Linked DNA regions of Homo sapiens: all the other regions are reported to be linked to region 1. The links are microRNA targets in miRTarBase. Many come from high-throughput screens and were not tested one by one. Region 1 holds a microRNA gene; each other region holds the end of a gene's coding sequence.

Evidence for each region. The annotated mature microRNA hsa-miR-4534 reads GGAUGGAGGAGGGGUCU and lies in region 1 at 2,367-2,383, opposite strand. An mRNA with a match to its seed (bases 2 to 7 or 8) in the 3' UTR can be bound and repressed. Matches are read on the target gene's strand: a 7mer-m8 pairs with bases 2 to 8, a 7mer-A1 pairs with bases 2 to 7 and ends in A, and an 8mer does both.
Region 2: the mRNA of LRAT is a reported target of hsa-miR-4534. Seed matches in the 3' UTR shown: 7mer-m8 at 1,822-1,828.
Region 3: miRTarBase lists SPTLC3 as a target of hsa-miR-4534. Seed matches in the 3' UTR shown: 8mer at 1,746-1,753.
Region 4: miRTarBase lists SLC71A2 as a target of hsa-miR-4534. Seed matches in the 3' UTR shown: 7mer-A1 at 1,605-1,611.
Region 5: the mRNA of ZNF675 is a reported target of hsa-miR-4534. The part of its 3' UTR that is shown has no 7-base or 8-base seed match.

The regions. Positions count from the first base shown.
Region 1 is chr22:37,986,032-37,991,211 of GRCh38, reverse strand. MIR4534 (microRNA 4534) reads right to left here and starts at 2,418; the gene lies at 2,359-2,418. It also overlaps a transcript of POLR2F not described here. RefSeq lists an enhancer at 4,762-5,180.
Region 2 is chr4:154,748,373-154,753,552 of GRCh38, reverse strand. LRAT (lecithin retinol acyltransferase) reads right to left here. Exons shown (of 3, transcript NM_004744.5): 3 at 433-4,569. The coding sequence ends at 4,417. Among named protein-coding and RNA genes, the nearest start is that of LRAT, 7.0 kb to the right of the region's middle.
Region 3 is chr20:13,164,429-13,169,428 of GRCh38, forward strand. It overlaps SPTLC3 (serine palmitoyltransferase long chain base subunit 3), which reads left to right. Exons shown (of 12, transcript NM_018327.4): 12 at 326-4,675. The coding sequence ends at 439. It also overlaps a transcript of TASP1 not described here. Among named protein-coding and RNA genes, the nearest start is that of ISM1, 54 kb to the right of the region's middle.
Region 4 is chr9:94,458,760-94,463,759 of GRCh38, forward strand. It overlaps SLC71A2 (solute carrier family 71 member 2), which reads left to right. Exons shown (of 12, transcript NM_032558.3): 12 at 402-2,283. The coding sequence ends at 653. Among named protein-coding and RNA genes, the nearest start is that of SLC71A2, 87 kb to the left of the region's middle.
Region 5 is chr19:23,648,583-23,653,762 of GRCh38, reverse strand. It overlaps ZNF675 (zinc finger protein 675), which reads left to right. Exons shown (of 4, transcript NM_138330.3): 4 at 1-962. The coding sequence ends at 537. Among named protein-coding and RNA genes, the nearest start is that of ZNF675, 36 kb to the left of the region's middle.

The DNA.
Region 1 (5,180 bases):
AGGTGGAAGTGGCAGTGAGCCCAGATCACGCCACTGCACTCCAGCCTGGGCAACAGAGCCAGTCTCAAATAATAATAGTAATAATAATAACAATGGAAACGGGGGTCTCACTATGTTGTCCAGGCTGGTCTCCAGCTCCTGGACTCAAGCAATCCTCCCACCTTGGCCTCCCAAAGTACTGGGATTACAGGCGTGAACCACCACGTCCCACCCTTACATCTCTAAAAAGAGGAAGCAGAAAGCAGTGTTTCCCAAATGTCTTTCAAGAGATGCCTATCAGTGTCCTGAGGAACACCAAGGGTCTGAGGCATCACGAGGCATCACCTTGCAAACACTGGATCAGGCACGGGCCTCTTGTTTTGAAATACAATTCATGGGTTATCAAATATGGAAACACTCTCAGAGATCAGCTAGCCTGCTGATTTTACATTGTACAGATGGGGAAACTGAGGCCCAGAGAGGGAAGAAGGTTGCCAAGGCAACACAGGGCCTCCACAGCCATTGGGTCTTGACCCCAGCTCTTGGGGTCCAGAGGCCCAGCTCCAGCTGCCTGTTTGGCCGTGCCAGGTTCCAGGTTTCTACATCGGTCTCTCCCATCAAACCCTCAGCTCCTCAAAGCCAAGGTCTGGTCTCTCTCACCTCCCAGTCCCAGCTCCTGGCCCAGTGCCCTGCACAGAGGACACATTCACAGAAGTTCCCAGCAGCTGGAGAGGCTCAGGGCAGACGCCAGGAAGGGCATTCCAGCAGCTGGGGACAGATGGCAGGAATGGGCAGTCAACTTCTCTGAAGGCTTCTCAGAAGAGAGCAGAGGCCAGGCTGCCAGAGGCAGTGCTGGACACTGGCCCCAGCTTCCTGGTTTCCAGAAAGGATGGAGTTGGGAGCGAAGGAAGATTCCAACCCCGGGAGCTGCCTTGCTGGCCTGGGTCCGAGACCCTCTGCTTGCACCAGAAACAGGGAGGGGCAAGAGCCCCTGTTGGGACAGGCCATGGAATGCCATCCTCCTCCCCCAGAGCTCAGACCCTCTGCCTCCAGGAAGCCACTCCTGCCCGCTCCAGCCTCCCTGGTCTTTTCCTCCTTGGAACTCTGACAGCAACTCGGCTCAGGGAAGGTGAGCCGAGGCTGAGCATGGCCTCAGGGGCTCCCAATAGGAACTGGAGACTGGCCTGTCCTCCAGGCTGTTCAGTAAGGAGGCAGAGCACATCTGAAGGTGTCTCCTCCTCTGAGGGAAAGTCATAGGGAAAAGAATTCCAACCAAGGTGCCCAAGGTGTGTCCTGGAAGAGGACCTCTCAGTGGGGCTGCAGCAGTGCCTAGACCGCCAGCAGGCAGAGGGAGGACAGCGCTCCAGGGGAAGGTGGAGCAGGCCCAAAGGCCCAGGCAAGGAGAGGAGGCAGGAGCAGGCCAACCTGCAGCTGCACTTGCAGCCTAGGGGCAATAGAGCAGAGTGGTCAGAGGCTGGGCTGGGACCAACCACAGGTCCCAGTCCACACCCTGTCATCATTCGCTGGGCGAGCTCAGGCCTGTCACTGAATCGCTTTGTGCCTCAGTTTCCTCCCTAAAATGAGAATAATAGCATCTACTCAGAGGGTTGTTGGGAGGATGAAGTCCGATGACAGGAGCCCTCACAGCTGAGCCGGCACCTGGGGAGGCCCTAGAGTGTCGCCTTCGCTGTTAAGGGGCATGGCAGAGGAGGCCCACCCATGACAGAGGAGCTTGTCATCCCAAGCAGGAATGCCACCTGGTCTGACATTAGGATTCAAAAGGCAAATGATAAACTCCTGACTGTGAGGCCGTGGTGGCTGCTCGGTTAATACTTGTGCACTTGACCTGAGGTGAGCATCCTCCACACCTCCCAGTGCTGGCCTAATAGCTAAATGATTTCCTCTGACTCACATTTATTGAGCAGTCACTATGCTAGGTAGGGGAGATGTGTGTGTGTATTCTTATTTAATTCTCTCATCACTTGGGGATATCAAGGGTGCATAAGATTATCAACATCGTACATATGCAAAAGCCGAGTCCTGAGAGGTTAATAGCGTGATCTGCCTAAGGCCCCTTGGGTACTAGTGGCAGGATTTCTTGACTTCAAGTCACTTTCCACTACATCCGAGACTGAGGATGACACAGCCTTATCCAAAGGTGGAGGTGGCCTAGAAAATGCTCAGGGGAGCTCCCACAGCCACCCCAGCGCACTCAGACTCGGCTGAAGACCCACAGGGTAGCTTCTGTCTGTCACTATGCTGCCCTCGACCACTAACCTGTGCCCGTCGGCCCTCCACCTTCCCAGTGCATAGGCCCTCCCCTGCCACACCCCAAAGCTCTCCGGATACCCCAGTATAACCTGCCTGGCTGGTGGGTCCAGTACCCAAGACCCCTCCTCCATCCCTGGTGATTTTGGCTCTGGAAGGGGGTCATTCACAGCCTCAGGGATCCAGAGACTCTGTGAAGACCTCCCAGGGAACTTTATGCTTGTACCTCAGCCCCAGAAATTCAGAATCAACCAGTCTGGGGTGGGATCTAGGCTCCAGTATGTTTTTTTGTTGTTGTTGTTGTTTGTTTTTATGAGACAGAGTCTTACTCTGTCACCCAGGCTGCAGTGCAGTGGTGCGATCTCGGCTCACTGCAACCTCTGCCTCTTGAGTTCAAGTGATTCTCCTGCCTCAGGCTCCCACGTAGCTGGGATTACAGGTGCGTGCCACCATGCCCAGTTAATTTTTGTATTTTTAGTAGACATGGGGTTTCACCATGTTGGCCAGGCTGGTCTCGAACTCCTGCCCTCAGGTGATCTGCCCGCCTCGGCCTCCCAAAGTGCTGGGCTTACAGGAATGAGTCACCACGCCTGGCTCAGTATGTTTTTCTTTTTTTCTTTTTTTTTTTTTTTTTGAGACAGAGTTTCGCTCTTTTTGCCCAGGCTGGAGTGCAATGGTGCAATCTCAGCTCACTGCAACCTCCACCTCCCGGGTTCAAGTGATTCTCCTGCCTCAGCCTCCCAAGTAGCTGGGATTACAGGCGCCTGCCACCATGCCCAGCTAATTTTTTTTTTTTTTTTTTTTTAGTAGAGACAAGGTTTCACCATGTTGGCCAGGATGGTCTCAATCTCTCGACCTCATGATCTGCCCACCTTGGCCTCCCAAAGTGCTGGGATTACAGGTGTGAGCCACCACACCCAACCAAGGCCCAGTATGTTTTTCTTAACTCCACAAGTGATTGTAAATTCAACAAGAATTAGAGCCAGTCCTAGGCAACTGATTAGAAATGCAGAACCTCAGGCCCCACCCCAACCTGAAGAATCCCAGTGCGCCTTCCCATTTGAGAAGCACTGCCCTACGCCAAACCCCGTATCCGCAAGCCAGGCCCTGTGAAAGGCCCCCGCAGGGAAACTGGAGGTAGGAGGGCACACAGTCCAGATAGAATTAAAGAGTGGAGGCCAGGACCCCCCAGGTCGCATCCACACAGCACTCAGAGGTGCTAAACGCTTTCCCTGTGTTCCCTCATCCCATCTCAGCCCTGTCCTCTGAAAGTCAGGAAGACAGTCTCATGCCTGTGTGGGGAAACTGAGGCTGGGGCAGAGCCTCAACTTGACCAGACCATCCCTCACTCCTGCATGGCCCCTGGTTCTGCAGCCAGCAGATTTCCTGACCTTCATCTCAGTGTATCCTTCAGGGCAGGCAGGGAGGGAGGGTGACCATCGCCCCACGTGACAGGTGAGGGACCAGGGACCCAGTGGGGGAACACAGGCGGAGCCTTCCATAAAGCCGGACCAGCTCCCTCAGGAAGAGGACTTGGGAGCTGGGGGGTGAAGGGTCACTGCTGACCGGAGGCAGCTCTGCCAGGCAGTGTCATCAGTGGGCTTCACGTTTGACTGACAGGTATTCCTTTCCTCTCCTCCTCTCTGGGGCCCATCTTCTGAGTAAATCCGGGACCTGCCTTAACAAAAGCCAGGCTGAGTCCCAGGAAAACCCTGTTGCTCCGGAAAGGCCTCCTTGGGCCATGGAAGGAAGCCTGGATTTCCACCATTACACTCAGACCGCAGACCCCTCTCTGCTGCAGAATAAACACCCTGAGAGAAGGCAGGTCATAGAGCCTACCAGACACCACACCTTGCCATGGACGGTGACAAACCCTCACTTCAGGACAGAGAGGTGATGGGGGGTGGGGTAAGGAGGTCACAAGCATCCCTGGAGAAGGGTCAAGAATGAGGGGGTAAAGGGACCCCTGCCACCCCCAGCAGGGAAAGGAGGAGAAGGTGACACTGGCCCTCCTGTTGTCCTGCTGGGGCAGAGGCCCAGGTGTCTTCAGCCAGGATCCCTCCCCTCTCCAAGCTCCCTGCTCTTCAGGAATGACTATGGGTCCTTCACCCTTGCCTGCTGGAGAGCACTGGGTTCCCAGGGCCTGGGATGGGATGGAGGGGATCCCAGTTGCCAGCATGGTGGGCAGGGATGTGTTCGCAGCAGGGGCCCCAACCACACACACACAGCACTGGTCATCTGACAGCCCTTCCCACCCGCCCTGCAGGCCCACCTGCCTCACCCAACACTGCTCAGCAAAAAGCCCAGCACAGCCCTGAGAGGAAGGCAGTGTCTGTGCGGGGACAAGGGAGAGAGAGAGGGAGTGGCCCCTTCTGTCTAGCGTGGCTTCCTGCAGACAGAGCGTGCCCACTGCTACCCCCACCCCCATCCTGGCACAGCTGGACCAAGGAGGGCAAAGGAGGAAGCAGGGAGTTAGAGAGGGGGCAGCTGTGGGACCCCACATTCCACCTCCTAACTCTGGGCTCTTTCCTTCCACAACCACCCCTCCTGCCCCAGGCGGGTCTCAGGCCAGTCACAGACACAGCAGAGAGCGGGGAGGTCCTTTCCTCAAAGAGGAGGAACTGAGGGGTGGAAGGATGAGTGGGGACCCACCGGGAGAGAGAGATGCCAGGCAGGCAGGCAGCGGGCGGGCAGCAGCGGGTGTTGGAGGCGACTGCAGGGCAGCCGGGACACGACGGCAGATGCTCGTCCCTCGTCCCTCTGTCCATCCAGGGCGGCTCCTCTCCGGGCGGTTCTGAGGCCGAGCGGGCGCTGTTAAAAAGCTTTTTATGTGTGTGTGTGTTAATCACATGATTGCCGTTCACCTGTATTTCGAACAAAGACAGCTCACTGTTTCAAGGCCCCGAACAAGAGTCTGGGCACAGGGAAGAGAA
Region 2 (5,180 bases), not on the chromosome of region 1:
TGAGACCAGGAGTTTGAGATTACAGTGAGCTAGGATTGTGTCCCTACACTGCAGCCTGTAAGACAAAGAGAGACCCTGTCTCAAAAACAAAAACAAACAAAACTTGTTTTGCCCAAGGGTCAACTGTATAGAGTTCATATTATGACTAATTATTTGTTGTCATTGTTACTTAATTTTGTGCAATGGAGAAGGGATATGTTATTTAATATTACACAGAACCTATTCCTACACAATCAAGGTAGGCTTCAAGATATGGATAACATAGATATTATCAGTCTGAAGACAGATCCACATAAAGTTTTAACTTCAAATGCATAAAACTAAGTTTGGTAATCTGTAAAGGAAGATTGGAAAGACAAAATTCTTCAGGCTACCACGCTGAAAAAAAAAGTTTGTGATCTACATTTATGTATTTAAAATTTAAAGAGAGAATAGTATGTAAAATTAACTTTATTTGACATGCATGTATACCAAATATAAAATTAGCTTAGCTGACAGATCTAGGTTGGTTAAAACTCTAAATAGATCATACAAAACAAAGATTGGCAACCATTTCTTATATGCTTCTCATCTACAACAAGGACTTTTGCCATTGCCATAACTTGATATTGCTGGAAAACATTTTTGATATTTGACATTAACAGTATGAAGTAGAAAAATAGAAAAACAAGAAACATATATATACTGAAAAAAAATTCAAACAACAAGTCTATACATAGTTGCTTGTCCTTAGAAAGAAACATATCTAACAGAGCTAAAATTAGGAGTATCCAATATACACATAGTCATCAAGTTAATCTATTTTGCAAGAACCAACTTTCTGGCAGGAAAGAAAAGTGAATGAGTCTTCCTTGACACTCCATCAGGAGTTATGCATGAATCAAATAAAAGGATTTTGCTAAAGTCTGTTGACTCTTCCTAAACAACCTTTCTCTCTACTCTCACGAATACAGATCCTTTTTTTTTTAGAGATTGAGCATCTTAGCTAGTCCTTTAAAATGAGTTCCTTTGTTCTCCATACTTTTGGGATTTATCTTTCTGAACCCCAAATCTCGATTGCCTGTTCAAAAGTCTAAACTTCTTGTTCTATACAAGACTTGTACCAGACCATTGCTTTCCTTTTCTGACATCTTTACTCAGCACTCTGCTCTGCGCTGGCCCCTGAACCACTTGCACTTGCCTGAATGCCCTGTGCAGTTCCATGTTTTCAAGTCAACAACTCATAGGGTACCTCACAGCTATGTGCCAGGCATGTTGTAGGCAATTTTCATGCATTTGTTCATGCTATTTCCAGTGCATGGAATGTCCTGCCCAAAATCTGTTTCCTGGAAAATATCCACCCATCTTTCAAGTGTTGGTACATGGTTTGTATAAATTTGGTCATATCTGTCTGTCTCACTTTCTGTTCCTTCAGTCAGTCAGCTTTATGCAAATGTCAACTGCAGAAAGTCCTAATACAATTATGTCTACTGGGCCATAAACTCTGAGGAACAGGTCCATGCCTCATTCATCATTTCATCCCTAACACCTGCCTAGTATCTGACACTTACATTAATTCATCTTAGCCCCAATTAGTCCTATTCTTCTTTCATCTGTGACAAAGAATAAAATAAGCATGAAAAAACTTCATCAGACACTACTAGGTTATCATTTCAGAAATCAGAATAGAAATACATAAATATAAGAAACTTGCAGGAGCATAAGGATGAATCTTAATGGATGAAGCCCAGAGAATTCATGAACTTCCTCAAGTTACGAGACACATTAATGGCTCAGGGTTTCTTCTTCTTTTTTTTTTTTTTTTTTTTTTTTTTTTTTTGAGATGGAGTCTCACTTTGTTGCCCAGGCTGGAGTGCAGTGGCGCAATTTCCACTCACTGCAAGCTCCGCCTCCTCGGTTCACGCCATTCTCCTGCCTCAACCTCATGAGTAGCTGGGACTACAGGCGCCGGCCACCACGCCCAGCTAATTTTGTATTTTTAGTAGAGATGGGGTTTCACCGTGTTAGCCAGGATGGTCTCGATCTCCTGACCTTGTGATCCTCCCTCCTTGGCCTCCCAAAGTGCTGGGGTTACAGGCTTGAGCCACCGCGCCCGGCCTCAGGGTTTCTTTTATAACTGTGATCAGGAAGATGTGCTTTTCTTTCTACTTGGTTAAGCAACTAATCAAACTCAGCACAACAAAACAAAGATTCTCCTTTTCTCCCAAGAAGTTCAACAGTTCTAGCGTTGTAGAACATTTCACAAATAAAACCATCCTAGTTTCCTTTTCCCATAAACAGTTGAACACATCAGTGTGATAAGATCACCTCACACTATTTCTTGGCTTAATGCTAGCATTGCCTCCTGCATACAGATTTCTCTTACCCTTCTAGCAGATTTAATTGCTTCTTCCCCTGTATTCCCACAGCACTGTATATACTCTATTATAGCTAGTTTACGAATAATAATATTAATTCTGGACCATAAAATTGCAACTGGTCAATGCCTGGCATATAATGAACACTCAAATGAACAAGGAATTGAATCTTGCTTTAATGAAGTAAGTCAAGACTAATTATGTCAGTTCCAATCTTAAGAACGTCCTTGGCTTTTAATGAGGGGTCTTCATCTTTGAACACAGATTTAGTTTCAGACAGTGGTTTTTGCTGCCTGTAATAACTAAAGTTTGCAAAAAAATTAATTATTTGAGGACACTATATTTTTAAGAAATGAATTTCCTTAAACTATTCCTACAAGGGTAATATACAGTAAGTGAAAAACCACTAACACGGTAGTTCTCATAGTGGTTGCTTTTATGTATGCATACTTAAGATAATTTTAAGTGGTTAGAATAGGTCCAGAGAACACCTATATTCTATGGTGTTGCCATTTAATGTTTTAATTATTTAAAATACTTAAATAATTTAATATTTAATTTGAAAAATTAAATACTGAGTTTGTTGTGGGCAAATTAGTGGTGATAAAACATTATTAATCTAAAATCTGCTCTTAAAATTTGTTCAGATTATCATTGACTGATTGGCCCCGCCCTCCCCATATTCACTCATAATATGATTTGTTATTTTGTGATTCTTGACAGTTAAGAAAGCAATTTTAATACCTGAAATGCAAGTCTAGCTGTGGCTTCATTTTAAGAATTTGGTAATTTTGTAAAAGTGCTTGAATGCTTGTTTTACCATTGTTATATCTCAATTCTTATAAGACCCTCAGCAGAATCAATTTACATGACTGGCAGTACTAAGCCACTTTAAAATTATTTTAAATAATTTTATTTGCTTGGGTTCTACTTGTTTGGGTTTTACATACTACTGTGGCATCCTTCTTTTAAGGATATAAACTATAATTAGAAATGATATGGAAAAAAGTGACTAGAAAACAAATCTGAAGGCTTTTAAAAATTTCAGAGTACATTAGTAAATGCTTTAAAAGACAACCCATCCAATAACATATATGCAAGTTAACACTACAAATTCAATGACATAAGAAAATAGATTGGACTTACTTTTACATTCACCTCTACAGATACTCTATAATGAACACACTAGTATGATGATAATAAAGCAATCAAGAACAATTTATCTCTCAGTCTGTGTATATGTGACTATCTACATATTTATTTCACACACACATGCCAAATACCCACATAACTTCAATCCTATATCCATTTACCTCTCAGAGTGATTTAAAGTAGCCACAGTGGCACATAAAAGGAAAAAAATAATGAATTCCAGGCTTCCTAGTAAGTAAAGCCAAATCAAATTGTTCAAGTGATACTATAGTGCTATTTTTACAGGAAAACACAGATTTCTATAATTTCTGGTCATTTACTTCATCATTAAAGTACTATTTGCCAATATTGGTTTCACATAATGACAATAAAACATTCTTGACTTATATACTACATGAAAAAAATAGATTATGAGCTTATTTTTTGACCAGTCATCAAACATGTTTTCATTTGAATAAAGAAAATTCTTCCAGTTTAATATGTTTATCAATTTGTTTTTTCAATGAAACAAAGTAAATTTACAGTAAAGTTACTGGTCTCAATATAAGTCTTCCAATCTTCAAATTCAGCCGAACAGTACAAGGATTACAGGAGAAAAAAAAACACAATTAATCTCTTGTGGCTATCATTTTAGGGGCTGGTTTTCTCATATTGCTGAATTCTACCACACCCTGTCGTATTTCCAAGGTTTGGATGGTGCTTTAAATCTGAACTGCCTGAGAAGATTCAGAAAGCCTTTGTTCTTGGGCTTACACAGTAAGCACTTTGCGTGATTCCTAATCACATTTTTATCCAGAACACAGTGTTACGGGTCACATTTTTCTCAATAATGCTTATATTGATTGATGCTCTATAAATATAAACATATTTACATACAGAATACACACACTGACATGGGGGTATGAAGTTAGCCAGCCATCCATAGGAAGAATGGAATAAAAATTGCAGGAAGGGTAGTGTATGATACCAAGCCCGTACAGACTATAGACGCCAATCCCAAGACTGCTGAAGCAAGAACACTTCTCTGATCACGAATAATTATCTTCACAGTCTCACAAAACTGGAAAATAAAATATTGGAAAATTAGGAAAGGTGGCTAAACCCAAGAAGAATCACATATATCAAACAGTAAATCAGTTTTCCCAGCTATTTTCTGTCTACCAGAAGAACTAGACTTTTTCTTATGACTTACAAAAAAATTTACAATGTTAAGAGTCCAGTTCTGATTCTATACCGTATAGTAGCAGAAATGATCCCTTAGGCAACTAATAATGGCAGTTGCCTATGTAAATACAGCATTTATAGAAAACTATAGAAAGTATAACCACATGGTTATTCAGGACTAAAGGTTTAAAACATCAAACTGCTTATCAATAACAATAGCATATTTTAAAATTAGATGAGCAAAGAGGTGTCTCTAATCTTGAGTAAAAATAATAGAATTTGGCCAATTAAAAGTAGATTCAATTCCTCCAATCTGCCATTCTAAAATCTAATGATACCAATGATAACTTTTTTATAAGTCTCAAAATCTACAGGCATAGAAAGTCTAATTTTATTGTCAAATCCCATTTCCTGACTAAATATGCTAAATTCAGGATCAATTATGTGACACATAACTGGCTGCTGGAAAAAAAGACAAATATTGTCCTTACCCCTGAGGAATGCATC
Region 3 (5,000 bases), not on the chromosome of region 1:
CATATAAGTCACTACATTTTAAAATAAAACCTTTTAAGGGTAAGCATGGGTCACATGTTTTTATTCTTCTCTTCACACTCTCAAAATAAAATAAACATTCATAGTATGGAGTTAGACCACTAAATAAAATTAATTAGCATCTAACATTCCTCTAGGGTCTTAAACCACAACCTAATGGTACGGATCTTGCTTCTTTTCTTTAAAATCAAAGAAGCTAGCAAACTAAGACTGTGTGTCTTTGTGAGGCTTGCTATTAATCTGGGCTCTGCAAAGCAGGGCTACTTAGGTGTTCAATGATAGCTATTGGAAAGCAATCTCATTGCAGGTTTTAGAAGCTCTTGATGAAATGGGTGATCTCTTGCAACTGAAATATTCCCGGCACAAGAAGTCAGCACGTCCTGAGCTCTATGATGAGACGAGCTTTGAACTCGAAGATTAAGTTTCCTGGTCCTGAATGACACATAAAGACTTTGCGAGAAAGACCTCCCTCCTTGCCTCACAAGGAATATAAATGGATTTCTCCCCCTTCCTCAGGACAATTTTGGTTCCCAGACCAGCTTGATTGAACTGAGGGAGACGTTGTTGTTTTTAATGTCTCCAGCTTGGACTGCAGAGACAAAAACATGATTCCAGATTTAAGTCTCTCTTCTTCCAAGTATTCTACTAGAAATACACACACACACACACACACACTTCTGAGAATATTTTTAATGGCAATAAGCCTGTGTTTTAGCTGCTACTGTGCAGACCCTTTCAGGGATTCCAACCAAATGCAAATGAGAGAATTTAAAATTTTTATTCAGTAAGTTCACTATGTGTTTACTTATTCCATCTGCAGATGTAAGTGAGTGTGGTGGACAGTAGCCACCTTCCTTGTTCCACTCATAAAAGCATCAGCTAGATCTCATCTGTATCATGGGAAGTTCCAGGCAGGAGGGTAAAGAAATGTTGTTTCTACCATTTGTCACATTTGGACGTTTTTCACAGACAAGTGTCAAAAGACATAGTTAATGTTTCGAGGGGGAAAGCAGAACTGATCAACTGCGACTAGAGACGTCTTTGAAGGAAATTTTCCTTTTCCTCTTGCTGGTCTCCTACAGTTTTACAGCTGAGCTTTTGAGGTTTGGAAAATTCAAGATGTTTGTTTCATAAGAAAAGGGGCAGAAAGCAAGCACAAGACACTTTTAGGTCTAGACTAAAATGGTAGTTACAACAATTTGAACCTTGTTGGTGCAGTGCACGGTGAATGCTTACCCTGCACAGCCTCTATTACCTTAAGGAATTAGTTGTCATTTTCCTATTGAATTTTGAGTAAATGGTGAAATTCAGTGTCCTTTAGAATCGACTCCCAAGACTATATTTGAAGAATGCATTGATTCAAGAAGGACATTTAAAAGCAAATTCTGACTTTTTCAAGACCAACACACTTGTTTAGGCCTATTAAATTGTACTATCACTTGTTACATGCCCTCTGAATTGGGAGAAAGTGGGCTTGCACACTTTGAGGTAACTAACTGTAATTTACTTGTGTTCTCTCTTTCTTGCTCTCCTTCTCAACATGAACACAAACCTCTATGGAAAAGTAGCCTCTTGTTAATCTGATCTAGTTTGTATGGAAAAAGCCCATGGAGAACCTTATCTTTAACAAGCTCCCAGAGGGTGCCCAGATTTGGAAATTCTAGAGAGCAGTGGTGACCTTTTAGCAAAGCTTCTGTAACAGTTCGAATGAGTTGCAGAACATTCCACTCCATCAAATGACACTGTAAACAAATCACTTCAAGAGAGGCTTGGTTTTGTGTGGCACAGATGGACCCAAGCTTTCATGCTGTGCACTGAGATAGAAACTCCACCCGCAGCGCCTGCGATGGATGGAGCAGTGTGCCCTGATGCTCAAAGCGTATTAAAGGAAAAAAAGTGATCAGCATGGAAAGTTTTTATGGGGAAATTATAACTCCAAGTGGGTGCATTGGTTTAAAAATGGATCACAATGATAGAGTTCTTCATGAATGTTTACAAGTTGTAAGGAATACCGTTAGTGAAAGAGGAAAAGAAGTGGGTTCTGAAAATGCAGTTTCCCATCCAATGATTTTGATAACAAAATTCCAACTTTTCTCAATGAAACTGATGCAGTATTATTTGTGCAAATAAAATGTGTCATAAATATGCAAAGAAAGGGAGACATACTGTTCTTATCTTGAATATGTGCATTTAAATGAATTGTCCAAAATGCATAAATGCCTTGCGTTCTATAAAGGAAACAGGAGGTCAAAAAGACAGCGAGATATCTAGTCCTTCCACAAGGTATGGAAAGCAATAAACATCTTCCTTTCTTTCTGGATCTGTCTGTGATGTTTACACACACCTTCACATCTACACTTCAAGTTTTAAGCCCCTAGACATGTGTCTTCATGAGCAGGAATGTCCACTATTATTACTTTCATGGAGGATATTGGGTCTAATTCATTGTGGGAAACTACTTACCTACCCAGCATGGAAGGCAGGGAGGAAGTTAGTCTCTTTTCATCAAGATTCAAGAGTACAGGGGCAATTTATTACACTGCAATGTACAAAACAAAAGGACCTGTTTCTGTTAGAGAGTCCATGTTGAATATACAGGTATGAGAACAACTGTTGATATACAGGTATAATCCAAGTAGAATGCTTCCACAGTGCATTAGAAGGTGCCCAAGCTCCACAGGGCCAATAATATTAGAGTATATGTCATATAGAATAAGGTTAATTAGGAGGGTGATTGTGAATAATGAGATTTTTAATTTTTTTAAGAAAAAGCTCTCAAATGCTAGGCTAATAAGTTCATGATTTTAATTCATGATTTTAATTCATGATTAAAATTATTTGATTATTGAGTCTTGATAATTATATCATCAACCATTACCCTCTACATCACCGCCCCGACCTTAGCTCTAATTATATCAGAGCCAAAAATGTGTCTTTGGTTAGATCTGTTGGAAAAGAGAATTTTCTATAATGTTATGCGCACTCAGCCCTTCTGTTCACATTTACACACATGCACACACACATACACATATGCATTTTTCCTTTACGGAGTAAGCAACTATGAAAATCTGGTTGGTTGAGAAATAAATGGAAGATGTTCTTGAAAATGACCTCAGGAAAGCAGAAGATAAAGGTTCCAGATGATATTTGTAAGGAGGCTATCTCTGTATAATAAGGAAATGGCATAGACTTATTCCTAATCTCATTATGAAACGATGGTGTCATGGACGTTTAACCATATTGCCTTTCAGCATGCTTTGATTTTACAGAGACGACAGGCTTTGGAATTTACTAGGAAGCTGGCTAAAATCCATACCCCTAGGCCCTACACCAGACCTTTACTGAAACATAATAGTTGTAGTGCCCAGGAATCTACATTTTTAACCAGCCTTCCTGCGTGATTCTAATCTATGCCAAAATTTAAGAACATTATTCAAACTCTAATTTGATAAACCAATTGACTCTAATAGCAGGAACCTTGTTCTGATTCTCTTGTTCATAATTAAGTGTATATATACTGGTAAAATTAATTTATTCCACAGTCAACCTTCTCTTCTCATTGGGACATTTTGTTCCCATTTTCCAAGTAACTTCTCTTTCTACAAAAATTGATCCAATATTGAAGAACCATCTGCGATTCATTTGGGTAAAATTATGCCTTCTTCAGTTTTCTGTATCATTCCCTATAAGATGCCCATTTGCTTTGAATGTGGTATCTTTCTTTTCTTTCTTTCTTTTTTTTTTTTTTTTTGAGACAGAGTTTTGTTCTTCTTGTTGCCCAGGCTATAGTGCAATGGCAAGATCTCGGCTCATTGCAACCTCCACCTCCCGGGTTCAAGCGATTCTCCTGCCTCAGCCTCCTGAGGAGCTGAGTTTACAGGCATGTGCCACCAAGCATGGCTAATTTTCTATTTTTAGTAGAGACAAGGTTTTTCCCTGTTGGTCAGGCTGGTCTCGAACTCCTGACCTTAGGTGATCCTCCCACCTCGGCCTCCCAAAGTGCTGGGATTACAGGCGTGAGCCACCGTGCCCGGCCTGAATGTAGTATCTTTCTTCTGTTTTCTTTTCCTGCTCTTTAAAAAACAACCTTCAACCTCTGATTATTTATTCCAACAACAGCTCTTCAGTAGGGTAAAAGTCTTAACAGTTCTTCAAACGAACAATATTCTTTTGTATTTTTCTTCAGAGATAGCAAATGTTATAAATGGCCTACTCTGATTTAAAAACCTAAGTTCCGATGATGATGAAACATTAACTCTTAAATATACATTTTGATTTATAGCAATAATAACAATTGTAACAACAGCAATTAAGAACAGCATCTGGTGAATTCTTGGCAATGTTTCCTGGTCTCAAAACAGTAAGAACAATTTGAAGTCTGTTCTTTAGAATGCCCTACTCAGCTGCATAATGTTTAGAAAATTAAAGAGTCTGTATTTTAAATATTTTTAGGTAATTATTGCGGGACATTGTCTTATGGTGTCCTGATGTACGTGGGGTGTGCATGTGTGTGTGTGTGTGTGTGCATGTGTCTTTGTGTGTGTGAGAAGGACAGAGAGAAATGTATGTTTCACTGAAACATTTGAAACGACCAATTTCACTTTATTGTGCCTGTAAAATGTTAGTTTTAAAATAAATAAAAATAATATGAAAATAATTGATGGTTTTCTGTTGATTTAGTTTAGGTTACCCTGAAAAAAGACTGAGGTAGAGATTTGTATTTAGGAATTCCACTGGGAAAATTGGTAGGGGTGGCTGGAGCTGGCTTGCACTGTGATAAGAACTAATTGTGCACATTTCTTTCTAATTCCTCATTCAGTGACATCAGATTGGTAGCTTGAAATTGGCCACAATGGGAGTATTTACACCATGGAAATTGGCAGACACTACAAGTCAGGGCTCTAGAGAGCTGTCTGTTAAACATTTACTAGCACACCACTGAGACCACCTACAATGGTACAATACAAACGTAAGAGTAAAGG
Region 4 (5,000 bases), not on the chromosome of region 1:
GCTAAAAATTGAGGTAGGGTACTTTTTGTACTATTTATTTGAAATTTCTTCCCTTGTTCCCTCTAAGCCATATCTATACAAAGCTGGAATTAATGTTCATGTACAAAGGTGCATGATCTGAAGTCATAGGATGGGATTATAGGTAAACAGCTGTTGCTTACAAGCTTACAGTTTTGCTTAAGCTATTTGGAAGTGGTACAAAAAGCAGTTAATTAGTTGCCCTTTGTCATATTCCAAACACCAAGCTCTAGTGGAGTTTGCCTTGACATTTAATGAAACATTTGCTTATGAGAATATGATTCACTTTTTGGTGGTGTGTTTTTTTTGGGTAATCTAGGAATAATTTTGAGTTAAAAGACTAACTGTATTCTTTGTCTCCACTTGTTTTCCACGTTCAACAGGGAGCTGTCATCCCAGGCCCGCCGTTTTTATTTGGGGCATGTATAGTCCTTATGTCTTTTCTGGTTGCCTTATTCATTCCTGAATACAGTAAAGCCAGTGGAGTTCAAAAACACAGTAACAGCAGCAGCGGCAGCCTGACCAACACCCCAGAACGGGGCAGTGATGAGGACATTGAGCCACTACTGCAAGACAGCAGCATCTGGGAGCTCTCTTCATTTGAGGAGCCTGGGAATCAGTGCACTGAGCTGTAAACTCGGCAGAAAGTGGGATTCTGCATACGCCATCTCTGAGAGCCATGGAGGGAGCCACACCCCTGGTGACTTCATGGTGCTGGATGGGAGACGCTAGCGGCATCCTTCAGGGCCAAGTTTGATAAATACCACCGCCATCATTCTGCTCATCCTCCTCCTGTTTTTTTTTTTTCTCTTACATTCTTTTTTTTTTTCCTGTTTATACATTAGAACAAGATAAGATTTGAAATACTTCCTTGCAAATAATGTGCAACTCCCAAGGTGAAACTCAAATAGAAAAAGTCATCTCTCTGGTAGAAAGGATGGCTTTCCTGTAATGACTATAGAGTAAGAGTGGCAGCAATCTTTCCATGCCCTTTTCAGCAGAAGGCACAGAACAGTAGCGGGACTGCCATCTCTGGCAAGATTTCAGGTAAAGAATCTCTTCTTAATTTCTACCTTCCTGTTTCTCTGAATCAGCCCATAGGTGTTGATGAGTGGCCACTCTTAAAGAGTCACTCAGTATCAGGGATCTACTGTCTTTGTTCAAAGGTCAAATAAAAACCTAGTCTCCTTTTATTCTACTTTCTATTCTTAGCTAGAATGAAACTCAGCATATATACACTTCTGGACATAATAATATTGAATAGTAATTACCTTTACTAGATGAAAGAAATTTTCATTACAAACTTAAATCATGTAAAACTCAACAACTCAGATTCCTGGACCTGGTGTCCTGGTTGGGTCCAAGGTGATTTTACAGAAGAAAAAAACAACTCAAGCATTCTGGTGGCAACATAGAGATTGTAGGCTGCTTCTAAGAAAGTTATTAACAATTTGGAAATTCCTAAGTAGGATGAGAGTTAGTAACTGGATACGAGTGAAGTTTATATCCAAGTTCAGACTCAAAGGCATTATTATGATTTGCTTCTTCCCATGTCTTCCATGTCCTGCTTCTCAAAGTTTTTCTCATCCATCACACTCCTGCCTTAACTGCTCTGAGTATGCATTTGTTTTCAATTCATCTTTATTTCAATCTGTTTAACTTTTGAATCGCATGGGAATACGCACATTAAGTTCCTTTCTAAAATAAGGTTTTATGAAGCTGAGTTTCACGATAAGTGTCTTGCTATTTTTTGAGATGTTTTATGGACAAAGAAAACTTTACAGATTTATATGTATTTTGCTGCACCAGTAAATGGACCATTAACTAGGGCCCACCTTTAACAGAGCACCCCTTTGAAAGTTTTATAGGTATGAAATATATGTAGATATTTGTAAAGGGTTTTAATTTTTTTTTTTTGATGGGGTGCTGTGTAAATCTTGTATTTATAAATGTAATGAAGGTATTGACAGAAAAAAATATATACAACTTTTATAAAGGATTGTGTACTGACTGAATACATTTAAAAGAAAATATATTTTGAAACCTGTTCTGCTATGAACAGAGATAACATATCTTTTTACTATGCTATTGGTTTTTAGGTTAAGCTTCCTAATGCATAATAAATTTACAGTGGTTACTTTTATGTCTTGTGTCTTTTTTTTAAAGCAAATAGTATTGCTCTTTTGGGTTCTCTGTTGGGTGGCTTTCAATTAAACTGAGTTGTAATCTTTCAGCTGATGCAAAAGGTATGTATTTTCAAAAAAATTTTATTTTTAACAAAATTCCTTCAAAGTCTCCCTTCAAAAACATCGTAACTACAGATGCTCCTTGAAAAAAACATCGTAACTACAGATGCTCCTTGACTTACCGATGGGGTTCCATCCTGATAAGCCCATTGTAAGTTGAAAATATCATACATTGCAAATGCATTATTAACACAGCTTAGAAGCTTCAGCACTTTCGGTATCAGCACAGTAGAGTATTGGTTGGTTGTTTACCCTCCTGAGTGCATAGTGATTGGGAGCTGCAGCTCACTTGCCACTGCTCAATGTCACGAGAGAGTATCATACCACATATCGCCAGCCTGGGAAAAAAAATCAAAATTTGAAGTATGGTTTCTACTAAATGGGTATCGCTTTTATACTGTCATGAAGTTGGAGACCATCTGTATTTTTATTTTTAAAAAGCAGGGACAGAACAAAAACGCGTATATCCACGTTCATAGCATTCATAACAGCCAAAAGATGGAAAAAAACCTAAGTGGCCATTGACCGATGATGAATAGATAAGCAAAATAGGTATATCCATACAGCAGACTATTATTCAGCTTTAAAAAGGAAGGAAATTCTGACACGATACAAAATGGATGAGCATTTAACACATTATGCTAAGTGAAACAAGACAATCACAAAAAGACAAATACTATATGGTGCCACTTAATGATGTGCCTAGAGTAGTTAACGTTCAGAAAGCAGAGTAGTGCTCACCACGGGCTGGGGGAGGGAGAAGTAGGAAGCTGTTATTTAATGGGTACAAAGTTTCATTTTGCAAGGTAAGAAAAGTTCTGGGATGGTAATGGTTTTTTGATAATGGTAGTTTTATGAATGTTCCCCATGTGCTTGAGAAGATGGTATTCTCTTAACTGTGAGAGTGTAAGGGCCAATGTATGTGCTGAACATCTATCTTATTATGCTTGGTATTTTACACTTATTTTTGTCCAGTGAATGGACATCTCTGTGATGCTGAGTCTTGCTATCCAGGATTATGCTGTCTATCCATTTGTTAAGGTTTACTTTTAATATATAGTGTTCTGACATTTTTCTCAAACAGGAATTGTATATTTCATGTTGTTTATTTCTATTAGTGTCTACTGTGAAATGGAGGGGTGTGTCTTTACTTCCATCCCATCCTTAAACTATTTATTTTTTATTATTTATTATTTTTTATTTTTTTTTTGAGACAGAGTCTTGCTCTGTCGCCCAGTCTGGAGTGCAGTGGCGCAATCTTGGCTCACTGCAACCTCCACCTCCTGGGTTCAAGCAATTCTCCTGCCTCAGCCTCCCAAGTAACTGGAGATTACAGGCACATGCCGCTATGCCCGGCTAACTTTTTTTTTTGTATTTTTAGTACAGATCGGGTTTCGACATGTGGGCCAGGCTGGTCTTCAACACCTGACCTCAAGTGATCCACCAGCATTGGCTTCTCAAAGTGCTGGGACTACAGGTGTGAGCCACTGCGCCCAGCCAACAATTCTTTATCTAAGGTCATCCTCTATGGACCAGAGAACTCTGGGAATTTCTTGCCTCTTGGGATCCAGAACCAGAGAAACAGCAGAGCATAGGGTGACTTACTTGTGGGCTCCCACAAACAGAAGGCCACTCAGACCTGCTGTTTGCCACCCCTGCCCATTCCTTCTCCAGATGGAACTGGTACTCTTCTGACTACCAGACAGGCTGCACCACCAGCAAAGGGGATGGATACAGGAGCCACACCAACAATAAGCGACCAGGGAAGGCTCCATATTCCTTGTGGGCCTAGGACTGCCTTTTCAAAGGAAAAATAGCTAAAAAGGCAGAACCTGCAAAAGAGGTGCAGCTACATTAGTGACCTGACCAAAGAAGGCTCTTTGTCCCTGCAGGTTTGAGATGGAGAGTCCCCTCATCCCAGACACAGAGGCAGAGGGGGTAGAATAGGTGAGGGGACACTGGGAAGAGGGATCCTTCCAACCCCACCTCACCAACATCTCCCCCAGCCCACCCCCACCCCACACACCAGAAGCCTGGTAAACCCTTCTGCACCCTCAGCTAGCACCAGCAGAGAGCAGTGGGAACCTCCTTTGGCACTAAATCCACTGAGGATGTCAAAGCAAAACATTAAAGGCTCCAATAATCAAACTATCATTGAAACCTCCTCCCCCACCCACAAAATAGGCTAAGGCCCACATGCCAACCCCAAACAAGGTGCTTGCTCGCTAAAATTATCAAAGATGTAAATAGCACCTAGCATTACATAACATGACAGACAAAAGGGCCAGGATACAATCATCACACCAAGAGCCAAGAAAATCATGGCTTGAATGAGGAAAGACAATCAACTGACCCCAACTGAAATGAATCAGAGGTTGGATCCATCTGAAAAGGATTTTAAAGCAGACATCTTTTTAAAATGCTTTAGTGATCATTTACAAATTTTCTGCAATCAAATGAAAACAAAATTATAAATCTCAGCAAAGAAATAAAGGTTATAAAACATGAACTGAAATGAAATTATGGAACTAAAAATACAATAATAGAAGTGAAAACTCGCCGGGCACTGTGGCTCATGCCTGTAATCCCAACACTTTGGGAGGCCCAGGCAGGCGGATCATGAGGTCAGGAGATCGAGGCCATCCTGGCCAACATGGTGAAAACCCTTCTCTACTGAAAATACAAAAAACATCATTAGCTAGGCATGGTGGCGGGCGCCTGTAGTCCCAGCTACTT
Region 5 (5,180 bases), not on the chromosome of region 1:
ACCGAAGAGAAACCCTACAAATGTAAAGAATGTGGCAAAGCTTTTAAACACTCCTCAGCCCTTACTACACATAAGAGAATTCACACTGGAGAGAAACCCTACAAATGTGAAGAATGTGGCAAAGCTTTTAACCGATCCTCAAAACTTACTGAACATAAGAAACTTCATACTGGAAAGAAACCCTACAAATGTGAAGAATGTGGCAAAGCTTTTATCCAATCCTCAAAACTTACTGAACATAAGAAAATTCATTCTGGAGAGATACCCTACAAGTGTGAAGAATGTGGCAAAGCTTTTAAACACTCCTCATCCCTTACTACACATAAAAGAATTCATACTGGGGAGAAACCCTACAAATGTGAAGAATGTGGCAAAGCTTTTAGCCGATCCTCAAAACTTACTGAACATAAGATAATTCATACTGGAGAGAAACCCTATAAATGTGAGAGATGTGACAAAGCTTTTAACCAATCTGCAAACCTTACTAAACATAAAAAAATACATACTGGAGAGAAACTACAGAACTGGAATGTGTGATAATGATTTTGACAACACCTCAAATTTTTCTAAATATAAAGGAAATCATACTGGTGAAAAATTCTAGAAATGTAAAGAATGTGTCAAAGACTTTAAATGGTTTTCACACTTCATTGTATGTAAGATAATTCATACTGGAGAAAACTACAAGTGTGAAGAATTTGGCAATACTGTTAATTAAGGCTCAAACCTTATTGCACAGGAAAGCGTTTATACTTAAGAAAAATTGTACAAATATAAAGAGTGTAAAATAGCCATTAATATCTGTTGACATCTTAATATCAGAATGTTGGTACTTAATAAAAGCATTATAAATGCAATTACTGTCTAAAGACTTTAAGAAAATATAAGCCTTTAAAGTGAAGAAGAGTATTCGTTTTGAAGACAAAGATTACAAACATAAAGAGGGTTGTAGTACATTTACTGGTATCATAAAGCTTATCATGTACATTTTGTACTAGAGAAAAACCCTGAAGCAGTTGCTCAAAGTTTTTTCAACATCAGTGAATCTGTATGGGAGAAAAACTCTGCAAATGTAATACATTTAGAAAAACACATTTTTTCAAAATCTATAGCTTTAGAAAACACCAGAGAGTTAGTACTAAAATATATTTCTGCAGGCTGGGCGCAGTGGCTCACACCTGTAATCCCAGCATATTGGGAGGCCGAGGTGGATGGATCACCTGAGGTCAGGTGTTCGAGACCAGCCTGGTCAACATAGCGAAACCCTGTCTCTACTAAAAATACAAAAATTAGCAAGGCATGGTGGTGAGTGCCTTTAATTCCAGCTACTCAGGAGGCTGAGGCAGGAGAATCGCTTGAACTGGAGGGGCAGAGGTTGCAGTGAGTCAAGATCGTGCCATTGCACTCTAGCCTGGGCAACAAGTGTGAAACTCCATCTCTCTCTCTCTCTCTCTCTCTCTCTCTCTCTCTCTCTCTCTCTCTCTCTCTCTCTCTATATATATATATATATATATATATATATATATATTTTTTTTTTTTTTTTTGTAGATGCAGTAAATATAAAACAATATTTATTCTAAAATTAAGTCTATGTAAATATCAGATAGCTCAGAAATATCTAAGGCACTGACACTTCAGACATTACAGTAAATCAGAATGCTGAGTATAAAAAATAATCCAGAACTAAAGTTGTTAGATAAATTGTGTATAACTTTAAAAGGTGTAGAAAATTTTTTGAAAAGTTATAATTACATTGAAAGTATACTTTTTTCCTTAAAAAATACAGATTATTTGCAACATGAATAATGTAATTCAACTCTCAAAATTCAAAACTCTTCTTGTTTTCTTCATTTCTATTGTATTCAACTTGTGACTAATTGTTGCATCAGAGATAGGAGAATTTTTTTTTATTAGTTGGGCATTATGATCTTTTTTATGGAAGGGTAAGGACATTAAAATGTAAGACACATAAAAATCTAAGTGGAGAGGCTCTTTTTGTTAATATAAGTGACACATGAGGTGGGTGTTCAGGGTAATATTCTGCATTATAGTGAGAAAAAAGCATTTTAAATTTTAGTTAAAATTAGTAAATTATTTTACTAATTGTACTTTTATGTAATAAAATGTACGTTCTTAAAATTTTAAGTTATGTGTGAACTTAATATTTTATTAAAATTTTATTTAACATTTATAAAACATTTAATAAAGTTAGTATGCCATTAACTTTAACCTATTTCACTTTACTCACTGGTGTAGGCAAAAGATGGTAACATACTATTTGGTAACATAATGGACAAACATTTCTAGTAATCCCTTTTGCCAGTGACTTTAAACTGCAAGGAGGTTAAAGAATGTTCTCATAGGTTAAATATTTATTTCTCATCTAAGTTTATACTTTTTAATTTTTGTGGATACATTGTATGTGTATATTTATGCCATATATAGCACATTTTGATACAGACATATAATATGTAATAATTACATCAGGAAAAATTAAGTATCCATCATCTCCAGCATTTATCCTTTGTATTATAAACCAATTCTACAGTTTTAGTTTTTTTTAATGTACAATTGTTATTGACTACAGGGCTATTTTTATGGTTATGCTAAAAATTATATAGAAGTATAAATAAAGTCCACACATTCTGAGTCCTAAATAAGCATTAAAAAAATTGTTATATGTATTTTTGAACATGTTGTTTCTCTGCCTGCAAACACATACAGACTTGTTAGTTTTGACTTAGTAAAGTTAAATATATACATACATTACTCTTAAGTTAAACCCTAGGTGTAAGAAAATTATGGAGTAAGTAAGCATGTTTGTGTGAGTATAAATTTGTTCCTATTTTCAGAAGAAAAGAGCAATATTGGAACAAAACATTTTAGTAAGGTAACTAATTTACTAGAAAACTATAAACCTCAAAAATGCGGAAAGCAAATCTATACTCTTTCTACTGAATTACTGTAAAATAGTATGGCTTATGGGTTCAAAATCTTATGCAAATTTTGTTTTTACTTGATTGGTACTCATGCCTAGCCCACATTTTTTTGTTGTTTCTTACAATTTTTTTTCTTTTATAGTTTATGAGGTTTTCATTATGTGAAGTGGTCAAAGATATAAACTATTTTTATAAAATTTAGTAGGGCACACAAAATAATTTTTAGATGTAGTTCCACAATTAGTGTATTGTTTTATTGAATTAAAACATTCTATTTTGTTCTTCTAATTGAAGAACCTTATATAAGCCTATTTAAGTTATTATTCCTTTCACTTTTTATAATTGACAGAAGTAAATTTATTTGTTGATTGAGCCAGTTCAGGTATTGGGGGAACCCGCCCCCAATATTTCAATGTAGGTTCTTTCTATTTTCCATAAGTGTCAGCCGGCTGAGAAATAGAGATAACACAGAGAAAGGAATTTTACAGCTGGGCTGCCAGGGGTGACATCACCTATCAGTAGGACCATGATGCCCGCCTGAGTCTCAGACCAGCAAGTTTTTATTAAGGGTTTCAAAAGGGGAGGGGGTGTAAGAACAGAGAGTAGGTACAAAGATCACATGCTTCAAAGAGCAAAAAGCAGAACCACTGATAAGGGTCTAACAAAGATCACGTTTCTGAGGGAACAGGGCAAAGGGCAAACGCAGAACCACTAATAAGGCTCCAACAAAGATCAAAGGGCAAAAGCAGAACCTCTGATAAGGGTCCAACAAAGATCACAGGGCAAAGGGCAAAAGCAGAACCACTGATAAGGGTGTATGTTCAGTAGTACATGTATTGTCTTGATAAACAACTGAAAACGGTTGGAGAGCAGAGAACCAGTCTGACCACAAATTTACCAGGGTTGAGTTTTCCCAACCCTAGTAAGCCTGAGGGTTCTGCAGGAGACCATGGCTTATCTCAGTCCTTATCTGAACTGTACAAGACAGACATTCCCAGAGCAGCCATTTATAGACCTCCCCCAGGAATGCATTCTTTTCCCAGAGTATTAATATTACTTGCTAGGAAAAGAATTTGGTGATATATTTCCTACTTGCACGTCCATTTATAGGCCCTCTGCAAAAAGAAAAATATGGCTCTTTGCCCGACCCCGCAGGCAGTCAGACCTTATGGTTGTCTTCCCTTGTTCCATAAAAGTCGCTATTCTGTTCTTTTTCAAGGTGCACTGATTTCATATTTTTCAAGCACACGTTTTACAATCAATCTGTACAGTTAATTATCACAGTGGTCCTGAGGTGATGTACATCCTCAGTTTATGAAGATAACAGGATTAAGAGATTAAAGACCGGCATAAGAAATTACAAAAGTATTATTTGAGAACTGATAAATGTCCATATTAAGATGAAATCTTAACAATTTATGTTCCTCTCCCACGGCTCCAGCCGGTCCCTCTGTTCAGGGTCCCTGACTTCCCATAACATTCAGGTAAGTACTAAGGAGGCTTCATAAGTCATGAGGATGTTTTAATATATAAATGTAGCAAAAAAACGTGACAGTGCTTGCCGAGTAACAGATGTTTTATAATCTGTAAATATTCCTGCTAGAGTTATTTTGTAACTTTAAGTCAGAGATGTAAAATATAAATGACAAAGAAAAAACATTGATTCTTTATGTGGATAGGATCTTTTTTTAGGCAGCAAACCTGAATCTTGCTGAATATAAAGCAAAATTCTGCTTGTTTTATTTTCCATTTATCTTCAGGTTTGTCTTACGTGTTTTCCAACTTTGCATGACATCACAGCACTTCTTTTTTTCTGTTTTATAGCTACAATTTTCTCACTTTTGTAATGCCATGTCATTTCACATGCTACTTTGTAGGTTTTGATGAGAAAGTTGGTATTTTTAATGCACTTGAAAAATTGTTTTTTGGTCAAGTGCGATGGCTCACACCTGTAATCCCAGCACGTTGGGAGGCCGAGGCGGGCAGATCATGAGGTCAGGAGTTTGAGACCAGCCTAGCCAATATGGTGAAACCCTGTCTCTACTAAAGATACAAAATAGCCAGGTGGGGTGGCATGCACCTGTAATCCCAGCTACTCCGGAGGCTGAGGCAGAAGAATTGCTTGAACCCAGGAGGCAGAGGTAGCAGTGAGCCGAGATTGCACCATTGCACTCCAGCCTAGGTGACAAGGCGAGACTGTCTCAAAAAAAGAAAGAAAAATTGATTTTAACTGGAGAGTTT